Homo sapiens: one gene and its partners. The protein of the gene in region 5 interacts with the protein of the main gene of each other region in a pairwise test. Each region holds a gene or a part of one and is shown on either strand. Other genes may lie near its edges.

Region 1 (3,500 bases), on a different chromosome or scaffold from region 5:
ATGGAGCTGATGGAGTCCAGGCTGTGCAAGCCCCTGAGGTCTTGAGAGATGTGCCCACTGCCCGTGCAGCCTCCTTCAGCCAGAGCCCAGAGCATAGACAGGAGTGTAGGAGTCCCTGTTTGATGTACTCTGGGAGAGTAATTCTATCTCCTCTTCTGATAGTTGGGGAAACTGAGGCCTTGTCTCACAGTTGGATGCTTTTCCCAGTTGTCAGTGGGTTTCTCCATGGGTCTCATACAGCTGCCTTATTGAAATAGGCCCCGAACCCCCTAAATGCAAAAAATACTCTTTTTTGCTCCTTTACCCCCACCTGGACCCTGGGCTATTGGCTGCTCCCAATCCTTGCCCCAAACACTTAGCTGGCTCCCCATGACTTAAGTGTGTTCTCTTGTGTCCTATGGAATCCAGTTCTGAAGAGGTGGGGGAGGACAACTGTGGGAAAAGCCCTGGGGGCCCCTCCCAAGGCCCCATCAGTGCTCTGAGTAGGCTGTCATCAGAACAAAGGGCTCCACTGCTGACAAGGTTTGAGAACTGCTGGCTTGAGGTGAGAACCCCTTTAACCTCTGCGGGACAGCATGTCTTTCCCTATCCACCTTCGATTCTTTTCTCTTTTTTTTCTTCATTGGCTCCTTCTTAGTGGATTCTCTTCTCTACTGCCCTGGGCTTCAGCCTTTGTGCAGTACTCTCGATGCCCTGAACACACACCTTCCCTTTGCCCAGGCGGTGCAAACAATCCACTTCTTCAAGCTCCAACACAAATGCTGCCTCCTTTAGGATGCCTGCTCTGTGCTCTCCCTGCCTCCCCTAGCCCATACCTCTGCTGGCACCTTCTGTACCATGCCTTCAGAAACCTTCTTATCCCCCTCATCTCTGGGGCCCCCTGTGGATCTGGCATACCCAAGTTCAGTAAATGTCTATCAGTAAGCTGATGGTACATGCATTTTCTAGAATAGAGCTGGGACTTCCCATGTGGCCCACATCTGACCTGGCAGCCCATGTATTCCGGTCATTAGGGATGGGAAGCCATGAGGACCTGGCCTTCTGCCCGACCCAGGCAGCCATTCAAGTTGAGCAATGGCCACTTCGAAGACTCAAGTGCACCTGATCCCTGCGCAACAGCCACACCAGGAGAACAGGCTGTCCTTGGCGGCAGTAGGAGCAGGCGCCAGGTTTCCTGGAGCTCTTGGCTTCAGCCAGCCCCCAGCCAGAGTCCTGGCTAGGACAGTGACCTGATCTCCTCCTCATGACCTTCTGCCCTGGACAAGCCCCCTGAACTGGATTTGGGACTGTCAAAGCAACTCTACCCCTGCTCTGGTAGGCTGAACAGTGACCCCCCAAAATGGCAGTGTCTTAATCACCTAAACCTTAACATGTGACTATATTACCTTCACATAGCAAAATGGACTTTGCAGATGTGATTAAGGATCTTGAGATGGAAGGAGTATCCTGGATTTTTCAGGTAAACTGAGTATAATCACAAGGGCCTCTGTAAAGGAGGCAGGAGTGTCAGAGTGACGGAAGAAAATGTATGTAACAATGGAAGCAGAGGTCAGAGTGATGCAATTGCTGGAGGAAGAGCCATGAGCCGAGGAATGCAGACAGCCTCTTCTCCTCTGGGGCCTCAAGAAGAATGCAGTCCTGCCAATACCTTGATTTTAAGCCCTGTGAAACTGATTTCAGATTGCTGACCTCCAGAACAGTAAGATCATAAATTTGTGTTGTTTTCACATGTGTGAAAACACATGTGTGATAATTTGTTACAGCAGCCACGGGAAACGAATATAGATTGTGGTGCCCAAATTAGAGTGCTGCTGTAACACACGCCTACTGATTGAAGTGGCTTTGGAATTGCAACGTGGAAATGGGCAGAGGCTGGAAGAATTTTGAGAGTCATGATAAATTGCCTTAACCACCTCTCTTCTGATAGGTGATGTGGCCAGGGGAACTCTTCCTCAACCTTCAGACCTAAACTGCCCAGGCCCCCCCTTTTTTTACTCATATTTGGAGAGAGGTGGCCCTTTCCCAGAGTGAGAAGACTGAAAGACTGACCAGCATGGGTCCCAGAAGGGAGTGGGTGAGGAATGGGACTGGGATGTGGGGAGAAAGTGCAAGGCTGGCCTCCATGGCCCATCTCCAGAGACTGGGTCCAGAGAGGACCTCAGAGACTGGGACCAAGCCTGTTCCTGCTCTCCTGTGGAGTTATGTGACTGGCCCAGGACCCCTTGGGTGTGTGAGGATGAGCAGGGGCCCTGTACTCTCTGGGTTGCAGGTACTGCATCTGTGAAATGAGCACAGCAGCCCCTGACTTTGAGCTAATGGGCCTGGCCCCTCCATGTAAGCCATAGGCCTGAGCAGAGCTGTGTCACCATTCTGTTCCTATGGTGGAGTGGGGCTATCCCTGGGGTTCTCAACCTCCTGGTTCCTAAAACTGAATTGGCCAACTGGTGCCCTCAGCCCTGTCCCTGTCCAAGCTGGGACTAGGACCTCCCTTTCCAGGGGTACTAAAGGACTCTGGAGACACCATCCCACCCAGCCAAGGCTTGGGGCTCCTGAAGCCAGTCCTAACCCAGGAGCCACATGGAGAGCTACTGGGAGGCCAGACATGGGCCTCATGCTGGGTTTCAGAGCTGAGAAGCTGGGGGACAGAGAGCATGGACACCTGGGTTCAAGGGTCAGCTTGGCCCCAAATCACCTGGATACGCTTTGGATGAAGCCAGGAGGGCCTGTTTATACTGGAAGGGGTGGATCATGGCAAGACTTATATTCAATCCCTGATCTTTTTTCCCAGAGAGGGATGGGGCTTACTTGAAGTAACACAGCACTTGACTCCTGACTCCCAGTATGATGCTCTCATCTCCTATTGCTTCCAAAGGCCTGGGGTTAGTTAATTAAGTCAATTAGGTGGTGCTCATATGGCTGTCCATGTAGCTACTAAACCCAGGGATTCTGGCCCATAAAGCCCTCTGGGCCAGGTTTATGGGCAGGTAAGAGTCACATTAGGCCAACTGTAGCCCTGGGTGTGCAGACAGATCTGAGTCCCATCTGAAGCTCTGGTAGCTGTGGGAGGAGAGCAGGATTTCCCCCGCTTGCGGAATGAGTGGGTGCCTTCCCCTCTGAGGTAATTGGCTGTACAGCCCCCAGCCTCTGCCCCCCAGGGCCCTCCTGAGGTGTCTGGAAGGACCTTTGGGATCTTTGGCCTCATAACCAGAAATCAGAAGCTTCAAATTCTAGAGGCCCCTTTTCTTCCAAAGACTACCTCTCACACATACAGCAGTCCTGCAGGAAAATGGTCAGGAAAGGCTAATTTTACAGCTCACAAAGTGGGAAAGGCAGGGAAGCCTACCTCAGCTTCATGGAAAGCCCTGAACTGGGCTGACCTCCACCTGCCCCAGCTATGCCTAAAGGGGGAGGGTGAGACAGCTTAGAGTAGCCATGCCCCGTGGCAGGCAGGCCTGGCTAAGTGGCCCCCTTCCCAGGGGCTGGGGTCTTCCCCAAACACT
Region 2 (3,060 bases), on a different chromosome or scaffold from region 5:
ATGAAGACAAATATATGGTAGGGTCCAGGAGTGTCCCAGGCACAGATGTGTGCCCTCTGCTCATAGAAACAGGATACCAATGCACATCCCTCAGCACATCCATGTGTTCACCAGCCAGGAAGCTGACCAAAACCTGTGTCAGAAGTTTTTATATCTAGAGTTTTACCATAGATATAATTGGTTAAAATCATCGGCATGTGGCTGAACTCAATCTCTAGCCCCTCTCCCCTCCCTGGGGATCAAGCTGGTATCATCCAGCTCAAAGTCCCAGCCCTGTAACTATATGGTTGGTCATTCTGGCATGGTCAGCCTCCATCCTCAGTCAAATCTTACAGCAAACTCAGGTGTGGTCTGAGATCAAATTCAATATAAAATTAGGTGCAGCCTAAGGTCAAATCTCAACATAAATTCAGGTGTAGTTTCAGGGACCTGCCACGAAAAACAAAGATACTCCTATTACTTGGGAAATTCCAAGGATTTAGAGTCTCCTTCTCAGGAACTGAAGACAAAGGCCAAATTCTTTATTATACAATGAAGTAGGGGAGGATTTATATGAAAAATCTTACTAATTCTGGAAGCTGGAAATGACCTGTGTCCCAGGAGATAGGAAGTAGACCATGTGTTCCTCATTAAGGTGGTCTCAAGACCTGCTCTGCTCCCAACTTGGTTCACTTTCCCAGCCCTTACCAAAGGGGCACCCAGTCAACCATTCAGCAGACATAAAAAATGAGTTGGATACCAGGTTCCCATCTGCCCCATCACCTGTTTCTCACGGTGTCCAGAGTATCATATAAGACCCCTAACAGACACTTAACAGAGACCCTGCAGGTTTGGTAAGGCAATTGGAGATCTGCTACATCCAGCCAGGCAGCAGCACTTTGGGAGGCCAAGACAGGTGGATTACTTGAAGTCAGGAGTTTGAGACCAGCCTGGCCAACATGGTGAAACACTGTCTTTAATAAAAATACAAAAATTAGCCAGGCGTGGTGGCACATGCCTGTAATTCCAGCTATACAGGAGGCTGAGGCAGGAGAATCACTTGAACCGGGAAAGCAGATGTTGCAGTGAACTGAGACCATGCCACTGCACTCCAGCCTGGGCAACAGCATGAGACTCCATCTCAAAAAAAAAAAAAAAAGAGAGATCTACTACATCCTTCCCCCAGCTGCCCAAGAGAACCCCTGGCCAACAATGAAGAGGGAAGAGGGGGGAAATCTAAATGACTACCTTCCACCTCTAGCATGCAAGAGGGGGAAAAAAGTAACAAGACAAAAGGCTTTAGGAGCTCTTAATGCTTAGAGTGAAAAAAAATCACAGGCTAGTTTTTTCATAGTCATTGATCCATCTCTGACATGGCAAGAATTTTCCCTTCACCCTGGCCGCAGGTGGAAGCCCAGACTCTCTCCTAGCAAGGTATCCAGAATGGAGAGGGGCTACCCTTGTAGTGCAGTGCTGTGAATCCTCAACCCAGAGGCAAGAAAACAAGAAGACTATGTAATGAGCACCCACATGCCAAGCCCATGCAAGGCACTTTCAAGTGTGATCTCAGTTAATCCTCACACCAACCCCATAAGGTAGGCATCCCTGTTTTACAGATGAGGAGCCTGAGGCATAGAGAGGTTTATTAATTTGTCAATCAAAAAGTTCCAAGTTTCAAAGCTGGGATGAAAAGCCAGGTCTTCTGACTTGCACTCTGTCACACTGGATTTTTCCTCTGATCCAGCTGCAGCCTCCCATAAGAAGTTCACTCTTAATTTCATGTCCCATGCTTTGTCTTGGTCCCTGTGAGGAAAGGGGTCAGCTAAAGGTAACTGTTCTATAAGGATGGGTAGGTATCCTGGCAAGATATTTCCTCTGAAATAGTAAACGTGACCTTAGAAGTTACTGTCTAGGGCACTCTCAGCTGAATAAAGTCTCCCAAGGAAACACTGAGGTAGAGCAGTCTGCAAGTGCAAAAGCACACCTTCTGCAGATTCCCTACAAAGTGGGGTCCCCTGAAAGGGGCAATGTTAAAAGGTAAAGAAAGCAGGAATCAGGAGGGCAAACAGGAGTAGTGTCAAAACTGCCATGGCAGGTTGGAAGACAGTTCAACAGATCAAAGAATACGTTTCCCAGCGACCAGGGTGCACAGAAGGACCTTTTGCTCCAGTCCAGGAGATGTGTTGTCATCTGCTTGGCCAAGAATGACTTCGAGGTCTTGAATGTGTCCCATGCAAGGCCCCAAGGGCACTCATTTCAACAGCAGTGGCAGCAGCCCCAGCTCATTCAATCTTTCCTTGGCCACTGCCTCCCAGCCCTTGTTGGCCTGTGGGTTACGGGGAGAGGGATGCAGGAGCCCTTCCACCTGGACCTCTGGCATCAGGCCTGCCAGAGCCCGTCGTGCCCGCTGCTCTGCCAGTCGCCCAACTCCCACCACCAGCCGCACCCCCAGCAGCTGCACCTGCCGGCAGAGGGCTGCATCACAGATCCCAAGAAGCTGTTCTCGCTGCTTGGCAGGCAGCTCAGCAGGAGTAAGGTTGCGCCCGCTGGGAGCCAGGAAAAGCAGAGGGCATAGATTGTGGACAAAACAGTGATGGAAGAAGACCTCAGGCTGTCCACAGAGGTTCCGGAAAAAGCCCCAGAATCGGGCACCACTCACTTCTGACTGTGGGCACTCCAGTCCCAGCACTGGTCGTTTAGGATGCTCTTGGGGAGGGGTCAGCACAGGCCCCACAATGCCCAACCAGTCCCGGACCATGCTTACTTCCCCAAAGGGCACCTGTGAGGAAGGAGAGAGACATGAAAGGCTTCAAACTGGAGACCTGAGGCCCGGGCTCTGGACCAACTGACTTCTTTATACCTTACATGAGGATCCAGCCTGCACCCCCTACCCCTACCTTCACCCAAAGGCCTGAGACAAGGATTCTTGGCCCTATGGTTTGAGCCTGTCTGTCTTTTTCCAGTTCTTCATTGTGAACCGTGGTCCAGAAGAATTTGTTTCCCTCTAGCCCAACTAGCCTTTGGGACTAAGTACAGGGACTACATTGAGATATCTAGCCCTACACAGGGTTTGATGGTTAG
Region 3 (3,500 bases), on a different chromosome or scaffold from region 5:
AGATTCCTCCCAGCATTCAGATTTTGTGGCTTCTAGTACCACAGAAAATTCAGGGCACTTTGACAAATTCAGTTCAATTTCACTGATACTTGCTAAGCCTGTTTGTAATTAGGTCTCCTGCTGATTCATCACTGTCTCACTTGGCTACCAACAAGGAGTCTTAGGGGTCAAAGCAAGATTCAGACATAGAGCTTTATTTTGTCCAGACATATAAATCTGATGATCAATAAACCAATTAGTCTAAAAGGCATCCGTGATGCAAGGATCAAGCCTTTGAAGGTGGTAGGGCTTCTACAACTGAAAAAGATTTATGACAGTGAAAAAGGATTGCAGAAAGCGCTGAAAAGGTTTTATCTTGTTAATGTACATACTCTTTTTATTATCCCATTTGATTCTAAAATTATGGTTAGGAACCTAAGAGAAAGAATAGGACATCATAAACAAAGCCTCTTTTATAAGGCAGAGCTGGGACTTCGAGTGATCTAATTCATTTTTTCTTTCATGATATTGCCTTTAGTGAAATGGGGACAACAAAGGCCAGTATATTAAATGCCCAAGATTGGACTACAGAGACTTTAACTCAGCAAGAGCTCTGCCTAGGGCAGGGTGAGCCCTGAACTTTGGGCCTAGCTGTGTACTGATGTGCTGTACAATTTGGGGAAAATCTGTCCTTCTGGGCTCCAGGTTCTTTCTCGGAAAAGGAGGAGGTTGAATATAAACCTCTAATGTCCTTCAGGCACAACATTCCAAAGTCTTAATTCTGTGACCTTCAGACTTAGAATTCCTTTCAGGATAGCCAGGCCTCCAGTGAGTGAACTGAGTCTAAGTTCATTTGGGCAAAATCTGTGAGACTTTTTTGCAACAAGCCCAACAGCTTCTTTTACTTAGATGCATAAAGTAATAAACCCTGATTTTTGTGTCACCCAAGCTCAGGCTATAGCTCCAGGGGAATTTTCAGTGTTCCTCAAGAGTATTGACAGGACCACTAGTAAATTATGGAAAGTCCTCTGAAATGATTTCCTCATGAAAGTCTTCTGAAATACTCAGAGACCTAGAATGTCAGCACTAGAGAAGTTCTCTGATACTGTCTAGTCCAAATGAGGATATTCCCTGAGAGGAATTGACCTGACTTACTGACAGAACCTAGGATGAGGGCCCCCAGGCAGTTTCTCCAGCCTCATGAAGATCCTCCTGACAAATGGTAACCTTGAGAACCACTGTGGTTAGAGGAAGTAGCACTGAGTCTTAGATCCCCACAAACAGCTCTCTCTTTCAGCAACTACTCATTATCTCATCTGTGAAATGTTTACGTTGGTCTTAATGATCTCTGAGTCTTCTAGCTCTGCAGTTCTGCTTCTATCTCAGACTGTCTGGACAAACAAGCAAGGCCTTCTTCTGCAGCATCATCTCTTTGGCTGCCAAGGGTGTTTTGGCTACTGATTTGTATTCTGAGTATGTGTGTGTCTCATTTCATAACATGAAGAAAGGGAAACATTCTCAGACAAGGTTATTCTTAGATGTGGGAACCAAATTCTACTGCAGTCTCTTGGAGCTTTTTGATTTTCCTCAGAGGGATAGTCTCACCACTTTGTAATATGGCTGTCCTTGTGGCATACAGTGGGTAATCCAGCTTCCCCAGGGAAGAGAAAAATTCCAGAGCACATTCTCCAGGAGCATAAAGGAAAGTCATCAGCATCTTTGGCCTGTTAACTTTAAAGAATCATAAAATCATGGCATTTTAAGCCATAACATTTTAGAATCTTAGAATCCTGGAGTCTGTGTTCCAAGCTGGGACAGACCATAGTAGTCATAGATTAGCTTTAGTCTCTCAGACCAGGCTCTGCCTGCATACCCTTAGGACAGAAGCTTACTGTCCCTATAAAGTGAGAGAGAAAATAATAATAGCTGATCTTTATAAAGTGCTTCTAATATGTCAGGTACTGTTCTAAGTGCTTTTTACTTAACAGTTAATGTATTTATCACAATGAAGTAGGTACCATTACTGTTCCCATATCACACGCGAGACTGATGTATCCTATAGCTATTAAGTCTCAGAGCTGGGGGTTTGGACCCAGGCAGTCAGTCTGTCTCCAGACTGCTCATAACCATGGCTCTGTGCTACAGAGCTTTCAGAAACAGGCACCTTCTGATTCAGGGGTGTCCTACTCTCCTGCATAGAAAAGGGATGCTTTCAGCTCTGCTAGGTTTCTCTACACCTTGATATATTCCTTTAAATTAGGGGTCAGCAAACATTCCTGTAAAGGGCCAAATATTTAGGCTTTTAAAAAGGCCATATGCTCTCTGTCAGTGACTACCATTGTAGCAGGAAAGTAGCCTTAGTCAATATGTAAATGAATGGATGTGGATGTGTTACAATATAACTTTGTTTACCAAAACTAGCTTCAATTACAAAAAACATGGCTGAAATTTAATTGTTTTAAATGTTTATAGTATGAATAAAAGATTCTGTGGTAAAATTAATTTGGAAAATACAGTCTTGTACATACTCCCATCTTAGAGATTCACAGTTCACCTCCCCACCTTCTTTAAGAGACAGGGTCCTGCTCTGTCACCCAGGCTGAAGTACAGTGTTGTGATCATGGCTCACAACAGCCTTAGACTCCTGGGCTCAAGCCATCCTCATGCCTCAGCCTCCCAAGTAGCTGGGGACTACACCAGCCACCATGCCTGGCTAAGTTTTTTTCTTTTTTTAGAGATGTAGTCTGTCTGTGTTACCCAGGCTGGTGTTAAACTCCTGGTCTCAAGTGCTTCTCCTGCCTTGGCCTCCCAAAGTGCTGGGATTATAGGTGAGAGCCATCACATCCAGCCCATCCTATTGTTTTAAAAACTTCTCAGGGTCATGGAATAAAAACAAAATCTTAACTGTTTATCTCTATTTTACATATGGGACTATAGAACTCTTTTGTTTCCTTTTCTTTGGCAAAAACAACTATTAAGATCCCTTGGGATCTATAGTACGTTGTCCACATTTGGGAAATGTCTATCTCTGGTTTATCTATAAAACCCCTTTATTTTATAGATAAGTAAATTGTGTCTCCGTACACATCAGATGGTTCCTTCTAGACATCTGCAAAGCTAGTCTCCCTGTCTTCCCCCACAGTATCTGCTTCTCCTCCTATGACCACATTTCATCATTAGCTCCATAATCTAGAAACTTTGAGAAATCTGCTCTAGACTTCTCACTCAGCTCATAGTTGCACTTCCAGTTAGTTTCTACTTCTCTTTAACATGCTTCCCTCTCTTTCATATGTACTTTCCATTCTATCCTCATTGTTACTTATTTCCCAAGCATATTTGATCACAAAACTATGGAAAAAACTATGGATCTGCAGGTGAAAAAATAAATGACGTGAATCCAGGAACAGGCTGACTTTTGTGGCAGCTGTGCAGCAGCTCTCCTATCCTCCTGAGTCATCAGGGGCAGGGGGGTGCTAAGCCAAAGAGGTGTGATGTGGACTGAGAAAGATTTGTGACCATGT
Region 4 (2,359 bases), on a different chromosome or scaffold from region 5:
ACCTCTCTAAAGGCCCTGTCTCCAAATAGAGTCACATTCTAAGGTACGGGGGTGTTGGGGAGGGGGGTTAGGGCTTCAACATGTGAATTTGCGGGGACCACAATTCAGCCCAGGACCCCGCTCCCGCCACCCAGCACTGGGGAGCTGGGGAAGGGTGAAGAGGAGGCTGGGGGTGAGAAGGACCACAGCTCACTCTGAGGCTGCAGATGTGCTGGGCCTTCTGGGCACTGGGCCTCGGGGAGCTAGGGGGCTTTCTGGAACCCTGGGCCTGCGTGTCAGCTTGCCTCCCCCACGCAGGCGCTCTCCACACCATTGAAGTTCTTATCACTTGGGTCTGAGCCTGGGGCATTTGGACGGAGGGTGGCCACCAGTGCACATGGGCACCTTGCCTCAAACCCTGCCACCTCCCCCCACCCAGGATCCCCCCTGCCCCCGAACAAGCTTGTGAGTGCAGTGTCACATCCCATCGGGATGGAAATGGACGGTCGGGTTAAAAGGGACGCATGTGTAGACCCTGCCTCTGTGCATCAGGCCTCTTTTGAGAGTCCCTGCGTGCCAGGCGGTGCACAGAGGTGGAGAAGACTCGGCTGTGCCCCAGAGCACCTCCTCTCATCGAGGAAAGGACAGACAGTGGCTCCCCTGTGGCTGTGGGGACAAGGGCAGAGCTCCCTGGAACACAGGAGGGAGGGAAGGAAGAGAACATCTCAGAATCTCCCTCCTGATGGCAAACGATCCGGGTTAAATTAAGGTCCGGCCTTTTCCTGCTCAGGCATGTGGAGCTTGTAGTGGAAGAGGCTCTCTGGACCCTCATCCACCACAGTGGCCTGGTTAGAGACCTTGGGGAAATAACTCACAGGTGACCCAGGGCCTCTGTCCTGTACCGCAGCTGAGGGAAACTGTCCTGCGCTTCCACTGGGGACAATGCGCTCCCTCGTCTCCAGACTTTCCAGTCCTCATTCGGTTCTCGAAAGTCGCCTCCAGAAGCCCCATCTTGGGACCACCGTGACTTTCATTCTCCAGGGTGCCTGGCCTTGGTGCTGCCCAAGACCCCAGAGGGGCCCTCACTGGCCTTTCCTGCCTTTTCTCCCATTGCCCACCCATGCACCCCCATCCTGCTCCAGCACCCAGACTGCCATCCAGGATCTCCTCAAGTCACATAACAAGCAGCACCCACAAGGTGCTCCCTTCCCCCTAGCCTGAATCTGCTGCTCCCCGTCTGGGGTTCCCCGCCCATGCACCTCTGGGGGCCCCTGGGTTCTGCCATACCCTGCCCTGTGTCCCATGGTGGGGAATGTCCTTCTCTCCTTATCTCTTCCCTTCCCTTAAATCCAAGTTCAGTTGCCATCTCCTCCAGGAAGTCTTCCTGGATTCCCCTCTCTCTTCTTAAAGCCCCTGTAAACTCTGACCACACTGAGCATGTGTCTGCTGCTCCCTAGTCTGGGCCATGAGTGAGGGTGGAGGCCAAGTCTCATGCATTTTTGCAGCCCCCACAAGACTGTGCAGGTGGCCGGCCCTCATTGAATGCGGGGTTAATTTAACTCAGCCTCTGTGTGAGTGGATGATTCAGGTTGCCAGAGACAGAACCCTCAGCTTAGCATGGGAAGTAGCTTCCCTGTTGACCCTGAGTTCATCTGAGGTTGGCTTGGAAGGTGTGGGCACCATTTGGCCCAGTTCTTACAGCTCTGAAGAGAGCAGCAGGAATGGGGCTGAGCAGGGAAGACAACTTTCCATTGAAGGCCCCTTTCAGGGCCAGAACTGTCCCTCCCACCCTGCAGCTGCCCTGCCTCTGCCCATGAGGGGTGAGAGTCAGGCGACCTCATGCCAAGTGTAGAAAGGGGCAGATGGGAGCCCCAGGTTATGACGTCACCATGCTGGGTGGAGGCAGCACGTCCAAATCTACTAAAGGGTTAAAGGAGAAAGGGTGACTTGACTTTTCTTGAGATATTTTGGGGGACGAAGTGTGGAAAAGTGGCAGAGGACACAGTCACAGCCTCCCTTAAATGCCAGGAAAGCCTAGAAAAATTGTCTGAAACTAAACCTCAGCCATAACAAAGACCAACACATGAATCTCCAGGAAAAAAGAAAAAGAAAAATGTCATACAGGGTCCATGCACAAGAGCCTTTAAAATGACCCGCTGAAGGGTGTCAGGCCTCCTCCTCCTGGACTGGCCTGAAGGCTCCACGAGCTTTTGCTGAGACCTTTGGGTCCCTGTGGCCTCATGTAGTACCCAGTATGCAGTAAGTGCTCAATAAATGTTTGGCTACAAAAGAGGCAAAGCTGGCGGAGTCTGAAGAATCCCTCAACCGTGCCGGAACAGATGCTAACACCAAAGGGAAAAGAGCAGGAGCCAAGTCACGT
Region 5 (2,756 bases):
CTAGAATGTCTGGTGTCTTTGGCTTTTGATTGAAATGTGGTCAGCTCATTAGAGACACTCGGTGTAGACTGGGTATTATGCTGATCTAAAGATCTGACTTGCAAGTACAGATGTCTGTGCTTAATAAAAGTGGGGAGAACGTTATGACTTAATAAATGGAGTTTGTCTGGAAGATAAAACTAGGGCCTGAGAAAATAGAAAAGGCCAGGCTATGAAGTTTGAGGTAGCTGCTTTCAACCCAGAATGCCAGCCCTAAAACTGCTATGAAATAGCTTCCTAAATAGACCTTCAGGCCATACTGAACTGAACCCGGCAGGCCCCTCAGCTGGCTACCCTATACTTCAACTTCCCTCTGGCAGTGGAGAGGAGCCCCACATAGGCAATGTCCCCCCAAGCTGCTGCTTTCTGCATGGCGTGGTGTATAGGATGTACTTAAATAGTCACTGAAAGGATGAGTGGATGGACCTGTAGCTGAGAAATCATGGTGGAAAACATGGAACTCCAGAGTTTCATCCTTTTATTGAAGCTTACAATTTCACTGGACTTTTGGCCCCAAATGAAAAAAAATGCAAATTAAAAAAAGTATTGGCAGGGAGAGGTGACCACTGTCTCCTGGAGACTGAAGCCGAGCAGAGCATGGCAGGCAAGTGAGGGGTCCCAGCTGCAGAGGGCAGAAGCCTGGCCAAAGATGCCCAGGGAGCAGATTTGTCTGAGCAGGGCCAGCCCCAGGCAGCTAGAAGTTAACACACAAGGATTTATGGGTGTGGCAGAATCCAAGCCACTGGTCCCATAGACAGATCTCTCTCATGCTTGGTCAGATTCCACTTTGGAGAAAATGGGCTCGTTTGACAGGATGGCCTGGTGAGGGAACACAGGTACTAACGGTAACAGGCCGATGAACACTCACCACTGGCATCAGGGTGGAGCTCAGCTGACTGGACACTAACTCCATTACAAGGACCTGCTCCTGGTGCCAGGCTGTGCCACTCAACTGCTCATGGCCATCAGGACATTCAACTTCTATCCTCTCCTCCATCAGGCCCCTATCTGTGTGGCCTCAGCCCCGGTCCTCACTATTTGGTGGCTATGATGCAGGACTCTCCACCCTCTTTTGGAACAGTGTTGCATCAAGCAAGGGAGAATGTTCTTCTAGAGGGACAGGAAAAGAAGAGATGTCCACATACTTCTCTCACTCTAAGAAGCCAGGAAAGGTCCCTGGTGCACTCCACTCTCCACAGATGGTTGGGTCATAGCATCCGAGAAGCTGTCATGGTGACGAAGTCCTCGAAGCTGAGCCGAATGTTGCCTTGTACAGCTGTGTCCTTCTCCCGGAAGGCCTCTGTCAGCACCTGCAGCTGGGTGCACACCTGGATGAAGCGGTCAAGCTGCATGGCAGGATTGGCAGAGCGTGGGCAGTAGCGGGAGACCAGAAGCTGGGTGAACTGGGGGCTCAGGTTGTAGCCCATTTGGGACAGAGCTGGAGAAGAGGGGCACACAGACCAGACACACAAAAACCTGCCATGAGCACCTCCATCAATCAGGAATACTGGATCACAACAGTTCAAGGAACTTCGAGAGGATGGGCACAGAAGCACAAAGAGGGTAGAGAAATCCCAAGGGTCTGTCTAAGATGTCAGAAACACAACAGGGACCGTGTCTGGATGCTCCCCTTAGGTGGAAGGCCCTCATCCCTCTTTCTCCAAATCTCCATTATTGTCTCTTCAACTGAGGCTCAGGGGATTGCAGAGACGACAACGGACTATCCGCAATCATCTCTGATTCGTTTGCATTCCAAAAGGAAGCCTGAGCTCCCAGGACCACCTTGCCTGGGGCAGACATCAGAGGCAGTACAGCAGAGGTATGAGGACCTGCTCTGGAGTCAGCCACTGGGCAAGTTGCTTAGCCTCACTATCCCTATCTTATCATCTCTAAAATGGGGATAATACTTAACTTGTAGGTTCTAGTAAGGATTAAAACGGGTGATCATGTAAAGCACTTAGCACAGTGACTGGCACAGAAAAAGCACTTGGTAAATGCTATTTTAATAAAGTCACTGTCACTCCAAGGTCTCTTGGAGCATCCTGTCTCTTCACTGGGATGCTTCCTTCCTTCCTCTGTTCAGAACTTACCAGGCCAGGCTAAAACCTCAGCTCTCCATTTGTTATGCGGGCCCTTGGGCAGGTTACCTACACTAAACCTCAGTTTTCTCACCGGTAAAAGGGAGATTATAAGGGATTCTTCATTGAAGGGTGTGGAATTATAAATAGTACCTAGCACATGGGAAGAATGAATTACATAAGCCTATTAAAAATAGCAAGCATTCAGTAAATACGTTTTGTTGTGGTTAATATCACCCTTACTAATATCCACGACAAAAGCTGGCAAGAGTAGGTGATTACTATAGGTCATCTCCCCTCCCTTTTACTGGGGGCAGATGTGGTGCACTCACTCCTGCCCACAGACCTCCTTAGTCTGAATGAAATCCACAGCCTGGGCAAAGGACTAGACTCTCTGGGGAGCCCTTTCTCCCTCCTGGGTGGCAAAGCTCCCTCTTGGGTCCTCCCCCAACCTCTTACTAACCTGCCTGAGCCCAAACTGTGGCCTTCTGCCTTACACAGTCAGTTTGGAACCAGACCTGGGGCTGTGGCCTCAGGTCATCTTCCCCAACTGCAACTTTTAGAGTGCTCAGGGTCCCAAAAGTTGGGAAAGAAACTGTCCACTAGCAGAGGTGGCAACAGACCCATCTTTCTGAGCCC
Region 6 (3,500 bases), on a different chromosome or scaffold from region 5:
AGGAGTTCAAGACAAGCCTGCCAACATGGTGAAACCCCATCTCTACTAAAAATACAAAAAATTAGCCAGGTGTGGTGGTGGGCACCTGTAATCCCAGCTACTTGGGAAGCTGAGGCAGGAGAATCACTTGAACCTGCGAGGCAGAGGTTGCAATGAGCTGAGATCTCGTCACTGCACTCCAGCCTGGGCAACAAGAGCGAGACTCTGTCTCAAAATAAATAAATAAATAAATAAAAATAAAAATAGGGGGCCAGGAGCAGTGGTTCATGTCTATAATACCAGGACTTTGGGAGACCGAGGCAGAAGGAACACTTTTTTTTTTTTTTTCTGAGACGAAGTCTCACTCTTGTCCCCCAGGCTGGAGTGCAATGGCGCAATCTCGGCTCACTGCAACCTCCGCCTCCTGGGTTCAAGCGATTCTCCTGCCTCAGCCTCCGGCAGCAGCTGGGTCCACAAGTGCGCGCCACCACGCCCGGCTAATTTTTGTATTTTTAGTAGAGATGGGGTTTCACCATATTGGCCAGGCTGGAGGCTGATCTCAAACTCCTGACCTCGTAATCCACCCGCCTCGGCCTCTCAAAGTGCTGGAATTACAGTCGTGAGCCACCACGCTCAGCCTGAAATTTTTCAAAATGTTTCACCAATACTGTTAAATACTCCAGTATCAAGTTGAAAAATTGCCTATTAGGCTGGGTGCAGTGGCTCACGCCTGTAATCCCAGCACTTTGGGAGGCTGAGACAGGTGGATCACAAGGTCAGGAGTTTGGGACCAGCCTGGCCTATATGGTGAAACCCCGTTTCTACTAAAAATACAAAAAATTAGCTGGGCGTGGTGGCGCATGCCTGTAATCCCAGCTACTAGGGAGGCTGAGGCAGAAGAACTGCTTGAACCTGGGAGGCGGAGGTTGCAGTGAGCCGAGATTGCGCCACTGCACTCTAGCCTGGGCGACAGAGTAAGGCTCCGTCTCAAAAAAAAAAAAAAAAAAAAAAAAGAAAAAGAAAAATTGCCTATTACTGAATCTTACAACTGCTAACAAGACTATCAGTGCCTTGTTGACAAAAGTGAAGACAAAGATTATTGCCATGTAACTCCCTTATCAAAGAAGTGGTCACACATATCTATGGCAGTATAGACAAGTCAAAGGAACAAAGGGGCAAGGTACATGGCCAACTCAGCATGAACAAGAATGTAAAATACATCTGGCCACAAAGATGTAACCTACAACCTAATGTTTAACGAATAAAAGTAAACTTACAGAGATTTTCACAGCTTTTAGAAGACTATTTTTGAACAGATAATCATATATTTCATAAAATGAACATTTTTTCAAGTTGAAGAATTCTTATTTACGACACTGATAGCTAGAGTTTCAGAGTCTGCCCTCTCAGCCCCTAAATGAGTATAATGATGCTTAAAGGTGACCTATTAAAAAAATTCAGGAAAATTTAATATATGAACTAAAAACTTAGTATAACCTAAATACTCACAGCTTTGATACCAGACTATCAGGTACCAACTCTCAGTTATGAGTTGGAAAAAAGAAAAAAAATGAGGAATTTGAAGGTTCTTTGAAGGTTCAAATGAGAAAAAAGAAGGTTACTTTTTAGGTTCATTTTATTAGTTTATATGTTTTTATTTCCCCTTCTTTCATAAGTTTCAGCACTTTTTTTTTTTGAGATGGAGTCTTGCTCTGTCGCCCAGACTGAAGGTAGTGGTGCAATCTCAGCTCACTGCAACCTCCGCCTCCCAGCTTCAAGCGCTTCTCCTGCCTCAGCCTCCTGAGTAGCTGGGATTACAGGCACGTGCCACCATACTTGGCTAATTTTTGTATTTTTAGTAGACACGAGGTTTTCACCATGTAGGCCAGGCTGGTCTCGAACTCCTGCCCTCAGGTGATCCACCCGACTCAGCCTCCCAAAGTGCTGGGCTTACAGGCGTGAGCCACCATGCCCAGCCTCAGCACTTATTTATGTCTCTCTCACCAAATCTGTAGTGGAGACAAGGTGCTCTGAGGGTTTCTATTATAGCTAAAGAAATTTCAGATTATTGATAATGTACCTTTTTAAGAGAAGCTACACCTACTCTTAGTATTTATTTATTTTTAAATAAAATTATTTAAAAAAATAGAGATGGGGTCTTGCTATTTTGCTCAGGCTAGTGAACTCCTGGCCTCCTGGCCTCAAGTGGATCCTCCTGCCTTGGACTCCCAAAGTGCTAGGATTATAGGCGTGAGCCACCACGCCTGGCCCTTAAATAGTTTTTAAATAAATGTTTTCCCAAACTATTTTACTGTGGCTTTGGGCAAATTATTCAAGTCTTATACTTTAGATCTGTAAGAGACTGTTACGAAGATTAAACAAGATAATGCAGGCCTGGCTAGGTGGCTCACACCTGTAATCCCAGAACTTTAGGAAATCCAGGCAGCAGGATGGCTTGAGGTCAGCAGTTACAGCAAGCTATGTTGCAGTTAAGTGAGCTATGATCGTGTTACCCTACTCTACCCTGGGCGACAGGGTAAGACCCTGTCTATACAAAAAAATAAAGAACAAAAGATTAGCCAGGCACTGTGGCACGCCTACTCAGGGAGGTGAGGCGGGAGGATAGCTTGAGCCCAGCAGTTTGATGACACTAGGATTGCACCACTGCACTCCAGCTTGGGAAACAGAGAGACAGCCTATCTCTAAAAAATAAAAAGCAAAACAGAAAAACAGATAATGATATCAAAGTTTGATAGAGCCTGGAAAATAATATAGATAACATTTTTTTTAACACTTAAATTTTTTTTTTAGACCAAGTCTCACTCTGTCACCTAGGCCGGAGCGCAGTGGCACAATCATAGCTCACTGCAGCCTCAATTGCCAGAGCTCAAGCAATTCTCCCACCTCAGCCCCCCGAGTAGCTGGGACCACACATTCATTCATTCAAGTGATTGATGTGTGCCACCATATTCATTCATTTCAAGTGATTGATGCTCACTCATGGTATCAAATGAATTAGAACAAAAGTAACATGAAGGATTTTAGCTCTACTAATTGCAGGTCAGAAGATTTCCACAAAGAAACTTAAGTTTCTAGAAGCAGCTTTAATCTTTACAAGGCCAAAATGCATTCACCAGGGCCAATGTCTGATCAAAGGCTTGGAAAAATAAAGTTTCAGCCATTAACAATTTACAAGCCTGATGGAGTATATGCCATATAAACATACATAAGGTTAAAAAGGTAACTATTGATATTACTATTTCACTTGGAAGCCTACACTATTTCATAAACTTGAGGCTGTCTGCTGAGAAGTATCAACCTGCAGATCCCAATACAGAATTTTAAATGCTTTTCAAAGAAATATTGGCTCACACCTGTAATCACAGCACTTTGGGAGGTCAAGGCGGGCGGATCACGAGGTCAGGAGATCGAGACCATCCTGGCTAACACGGTGAAACCCCGTCTCTACTAAAAATACAAAAAATTAGCCGGGCGTGGTGGCGGGCACCTGTAGTCCCAGC
Region 7 (3,500 bases), on a different chromosome or scaffold from region 5:
TGTTCTCCAGGCGAAGTTCTGGTTTCCACAACCCCTGCATACAATTACATCACAGCAGAAATCACCAATTGAACTAAGGAAGATAAACAAGGAAAGGTGGTGTGTGAACAGGTACACACTCACTATCAAGAGGATCTATGTACACCCATGCTTTAGGGCACAGCCTCAGGCAGCATTGCACCCACAGGACAGGTCAAATCAATCTTCAGAAGGCTCTGAAGCGTCCAGTGAATGGCTGACTAGTGTCCCTAACCAGCCATCAGGGTCATCATTCTGTTCCTCTAGACAGAGCAATCCACTCTAGAGTGGGGATGGGGTGAGGGAAGGGTGGCTTCACTCGTAGGGTATCAATTTGCCAAGACAAGTACATACGGATTGGGACACTGCCAGTCTCCAGCTCGGTGCTGGACGTTTCCTCCTCCAGAGGGGTTCCCTCGGGAACCCCGGGGTCCTCTTGGAGGGAAGCCTCCTCTATCTCCTCCACGGCCTCCCATGCGACCCATGGGTCCCCCAGGACCTCCTGGGCCTCCTGGACCTACAACAAGAACAACAAGAAACAGCAAATCATTTCTCTGTAGCACCAAATTTGCTATAGGAAATAAAAATCACTAAGTAAACCCACAGATACTACTGCTGTCATTTCCCCATCACCTGTCCCGTGTTTCCGTGTGGCTCAGGCCATCAGCCCCCTTCCCTGTGAGGAGCGTGTTCCACGTGCTCTACAGAAACAGAGCTCCCACAATTTTTTTTTTTTTTTTTTGGAGACGGAGTCTCACACTGTTGCCCAGGCTGGAGTGCAGTGGCACGATCTTTGCTCACTGCAACCTCCACCCCCCCAGATTCAAACAATTCTCCTGCCTCAGCCTCCCGAGTAGCTGGGATTACAGGCATGCACCACCATACCCGGCTAATTTTTGTATTTTTAGTAGAGAGGGAGTTTCACCACGTTGGCCAGGCTGGTCTTAAACTCCTGACCTCAGGTGATCCGCCCACCTCAGCCTCCCAAAGTGCTGGGATTACAGGCGTGAGCCACTGCACCTGGCTGAACTCCCACAATTCTGTAAGGAATAGGCATGTCTATACAGACACAACCAAAGCTGAATAAATGGCAGTCTGGAGTTGACAGGCAGAGTGGCTTCCAGCCTCCCATGTTCTTCTCTTCCTTTTATTCCCAACAAACATTCATTGTTAGCTCTCGATAGTCTAGTATTGACTCTACACACAATTTTATATTTCTTCACTCTAATAATCAAGTTTCTCAAGGGTATGAAGTGTACTGAAAACCTTTTAATGCAACATAGGAGCTCAGAAAAAGTACCTCCACGGAGTGGTGGTGGCATGCCTCTGCCCTCACGGGGTGGCAGACCACCCCGCATACTGTTCATTGGAGGCTTCTTCCGAGCAAGGGAGACTTTAAGTTTGCTCCCTTGAAAATCTTTCCCTGGAACAAGACAACAGAACATCAATTACTCCCCTGTACTCCCTGTTCACCAACTCCACATCATCATCAAATGACCACTCCCAGATGCATTAGGTCTGCCTGTAATCTTCTCTAAGATCTTTAATGACAAGGCCAGAAAAAGGCTTTTTTTGAGATGGGAGTCTCACTCTGTTGCCCGGGCTGGAGTGCAGTGGCACAGCTCACTGCAGTTTCAATCTCACTTGCTCAAGCAATCCTCCCAAGTAGCTGGGACTACAGGCACGCATCACCATGCCCGACTAATTTTACAAAATTGTTTGTAGAGGCAGTGTCTCACTAGGTTGCCCAGGCTGCTAGTGAACTCCTTGGTTCAAACAATCCTCCTGCCTTGGCCTCCTGAAGTGGTAGGATTATAGGCAAGAGCCACTGTGCCTGGCCAGAAAAAGGCCATACTTAAATACACTTAAAAACCTTCCTACAGCCTGACCAACATGGTGAAACCCCATCTCTACTAAAAAATACAAAAGTTAGGCTCAGCGTGGTGACATGCGCCTGTAGTCCAGCAGCTACTCGAGTGGCTGACGCACAAGATTGGCTTGAACCTGGGAGGTGGAGGTTGCAGTAAGCTGAGATGGCTTGTGTCACTGCACTCCAGCCTGGGTGACAAAGTGAGACCATCTCAAAAAAAACAACACAAGCAAAAAACACTGTCTACCATAAGGAGGAAAATAAGCTGGTGGGAAGCTGACTGCATGACCAAGAAAACAGAACCAGGACTTGTTATTTGACACTTTCTTTGAGACAGAGTCTTGCTCCGTTGCCCAGGTTGGAGTGCAGTGGTGCAATCTCAGCTCACTGGAGCTTCAAACTCTCCGGGCTCAAGTGATCCTCCCACCTCAGCCTCCTGAGTGGCTGGTACTATAGGTATAGGAGTGTGCCACAACACCTGGCTAATTTTTGTATTTTTTTTGTAGAGACAGGGTTTTGCCATGTTCCCCAGGCTGGTCTCAAGCCCCTGGATTCAAGCAATGCACCGATGTTGGCCTCCCAAAGTGCTGGGATTACAGGTGCAAGCCACTGGACATGGCCAAGTCATTCAATGCTTTCAAGTTGGTTTTGTCTGAAGTGAAATCCCACCATTAATGTCAAGGCCTCATTTAAATATATATATTTATCTATATGCAAATGTACACTGGCTAAGATGTTCTTTTGAAGGGTTTTCTGTACCTTCTGATAATCTGTGCTTAGGAAGTGTTTGCCACTTTAAGCAAGGTTGATTTGTAATACTAATGCCTCAAAATAAAGGGATCTCCAAATCCAGGGTCAATGGCTGGGTGCTACTACTACTGCAGGGAGACCGGCCATCTACCTCCCCCAGGAAGAGATGGAAGGTCTTCTTGCTCCTATGGTTCACAAGTTTCTCCCTCATGCCATATTCTATAGCCAGGGAGATTAAGAATGCCAGTGAGTACATCTCACCATCAAACCATTCCACGGCAGCCTTGGCAGTGGGTGGGTCTTCATAGGACACTGTGGCATCGCCTTTGGGCTTTCCTGTTTCCTTGTCCAGGTAGATGTGGATCATGGGTTGCCCAGTTCTCTTGTTCATCTAGACAAAGAATAGCATAGTTAGGCATGACTAGAATATACTAATTTGGGAGAAAAAAGTCCAGGCAAAATCCAGGAAAAGTACCAATTTCTCACATGTAGTAAGTCACTAAATGTCACCGTTTCTCCGCTTTTAAGTTTTTCAGAATTCTAAGTTATTTTCTCCTCTATCCCTGCTTTATCATAAAAACCAAAGTAGACCAAAGTGTGGAAGTGAACAGGATAGGCCCCACTCCTGCCTTAGCCATCTTCTGATGCTGGTTTGCCTGCCCTGGCATTTTCTATGCCCAGACAGGTATCCACTGAGCACAGCCACCTCGTAGGGGTAGTCAGACTTTGATACCACCACATAAGACATGACTGGCATAAAGAAAATTATCCTTAAACCGTGAAGGACAGTGTACAGGCTGTGAGTGAACTACAGGGATTCTTGGTTAGTCTAACACAGCCACTACTTCCTCCAGTTAGAACA

What was found.
Region 1: the proteins of PEF1 (region 5) and HEMK1 interact in binary tests that used the Homo sapiens proteins (3 or more experiments, as listed by UniProt).
Region 2: the proteins of PEF1 (region 5) and SMUG1 interact in binary tests that used the Homo sapiens proteins (3 or more experiments, as listed by UniProt).
Region 3: the proteins of PEF1 (region 5) and FAM168A interact in binary tests that used the Homo sapiens proteins (3 or more experiments, as listed by UniProt).
Region 4: the proteins of PEF1 (region 5) and STH interact in binary tests that used the Homo sapiens proteins (3 or more experiments, as listed by UniProt).
Region 6: the proteins of PEF1 (region 5) and SEC24A interact in binary tests that used the Homo sapiens proteins (3 or more experiments, as listed by UniProt).
Region 7: the proteins of PEF1 (region 5) and EWSR1 interact in binary tests that used the Homo sapiens proteins (3 or more experiments, as listed by UniProt).

Annotation. Positions count from the first base shown.
Region 1 is NC_000003.12:50,583,022-50,586,521, forward strand, and holds part of HEMK1 (MTRF1L release factor glutamine methyltransferase), read left to right. Parts: 3' UTR 1-1,013; coding exon of another isoform or gene 1,014-1,029; 3' UTR 1,030-3,500. UniProt on the Homo sapiens protein: N5-glutamine methyltransferase responsible for the methylation of the glutamine residue in the universally conserved GGQ motif of the mitochondrial translation release factors MTRF1, MTRF1L, MRPL58/ICT1 and MTRFR.
Region 2 is NC_000012.12:54,179,866-54,182,925, forward strand, and holds the end of SMUG1 (single-strand selective monofunctional uracil DNA glycosylase), read right to left. Parts: intron 2,759-3,060; coding exon 2,231-2,758; 3' UTR 1,783-2,230; coding exon of another isoform or gene 1,654-1,782; 3' UTR 501-1,653; downstream 1-500.
Region 3 is NC_000011.10:73,413,113-73,416,612, reverse strand, and holds part of FAM168A (protein FAM168A), read left to right. Parts: intron 1-3,500.
Region 4 is NC_000017.11:45,997,836-46,000,194, forward strand, and holds STH (saitohin), read left to right. Parts: upstream 1-1,414; 5' UTR 1,415-1,444; coding exon 1,445-1,831; 3' UTR 1,832-1,859; downstream 1,860-2,359.
Region 5 is NC_000001.11:31,629,366-31,632,121, forward strand, and holds the end of PEF1 (peflin), read right to left. Parts: intron 1,478-2,756; coding exon 1,248-1,477; 3' UTR 501-1,247; downstream 1-500. UniProt on the Homo sapiens protein: Calcium-binding protein that acts as an adapter that bridges unrelated proteins or stabilizes weak protein-protein complexes in response to calcium.
Region 6 is NC_000005.10:134,662,285-134,665,784, reverse strand, and holds part of SEC24A (protein transport protein Sec24A), read right to left. Parts: intron 1-3,500. UniProt on the Homo sapiens protein: Component of the coat protein complex II (COPII) which promotes the formation of transport vesicles from the endoplasmic reticulum (ER).
Region 7 is NC_000022.11:29,295,768-29,299,267, reverse strand, and holds part of EWSR1 (RNA-binding protein EWS), read right to left. Parts: intron 3,030-3,500; coding exon 2,900-3,029; intron 1,442-2,899; coding exon 1,319-1,441; intron 536-1,318; coding exon 373-535; intron 74-372; coding exon of another isoform or gene 35-73; coding exon 1-34. UniProt on the Homo sapiens protein: Binds to ssRNA containing the consensus sequence 5'-AGGUAA-3'. Might normally function as a transcriptional repressor. EWS-fusion-proteins (EFPS) may play a role in the tumorigenic process.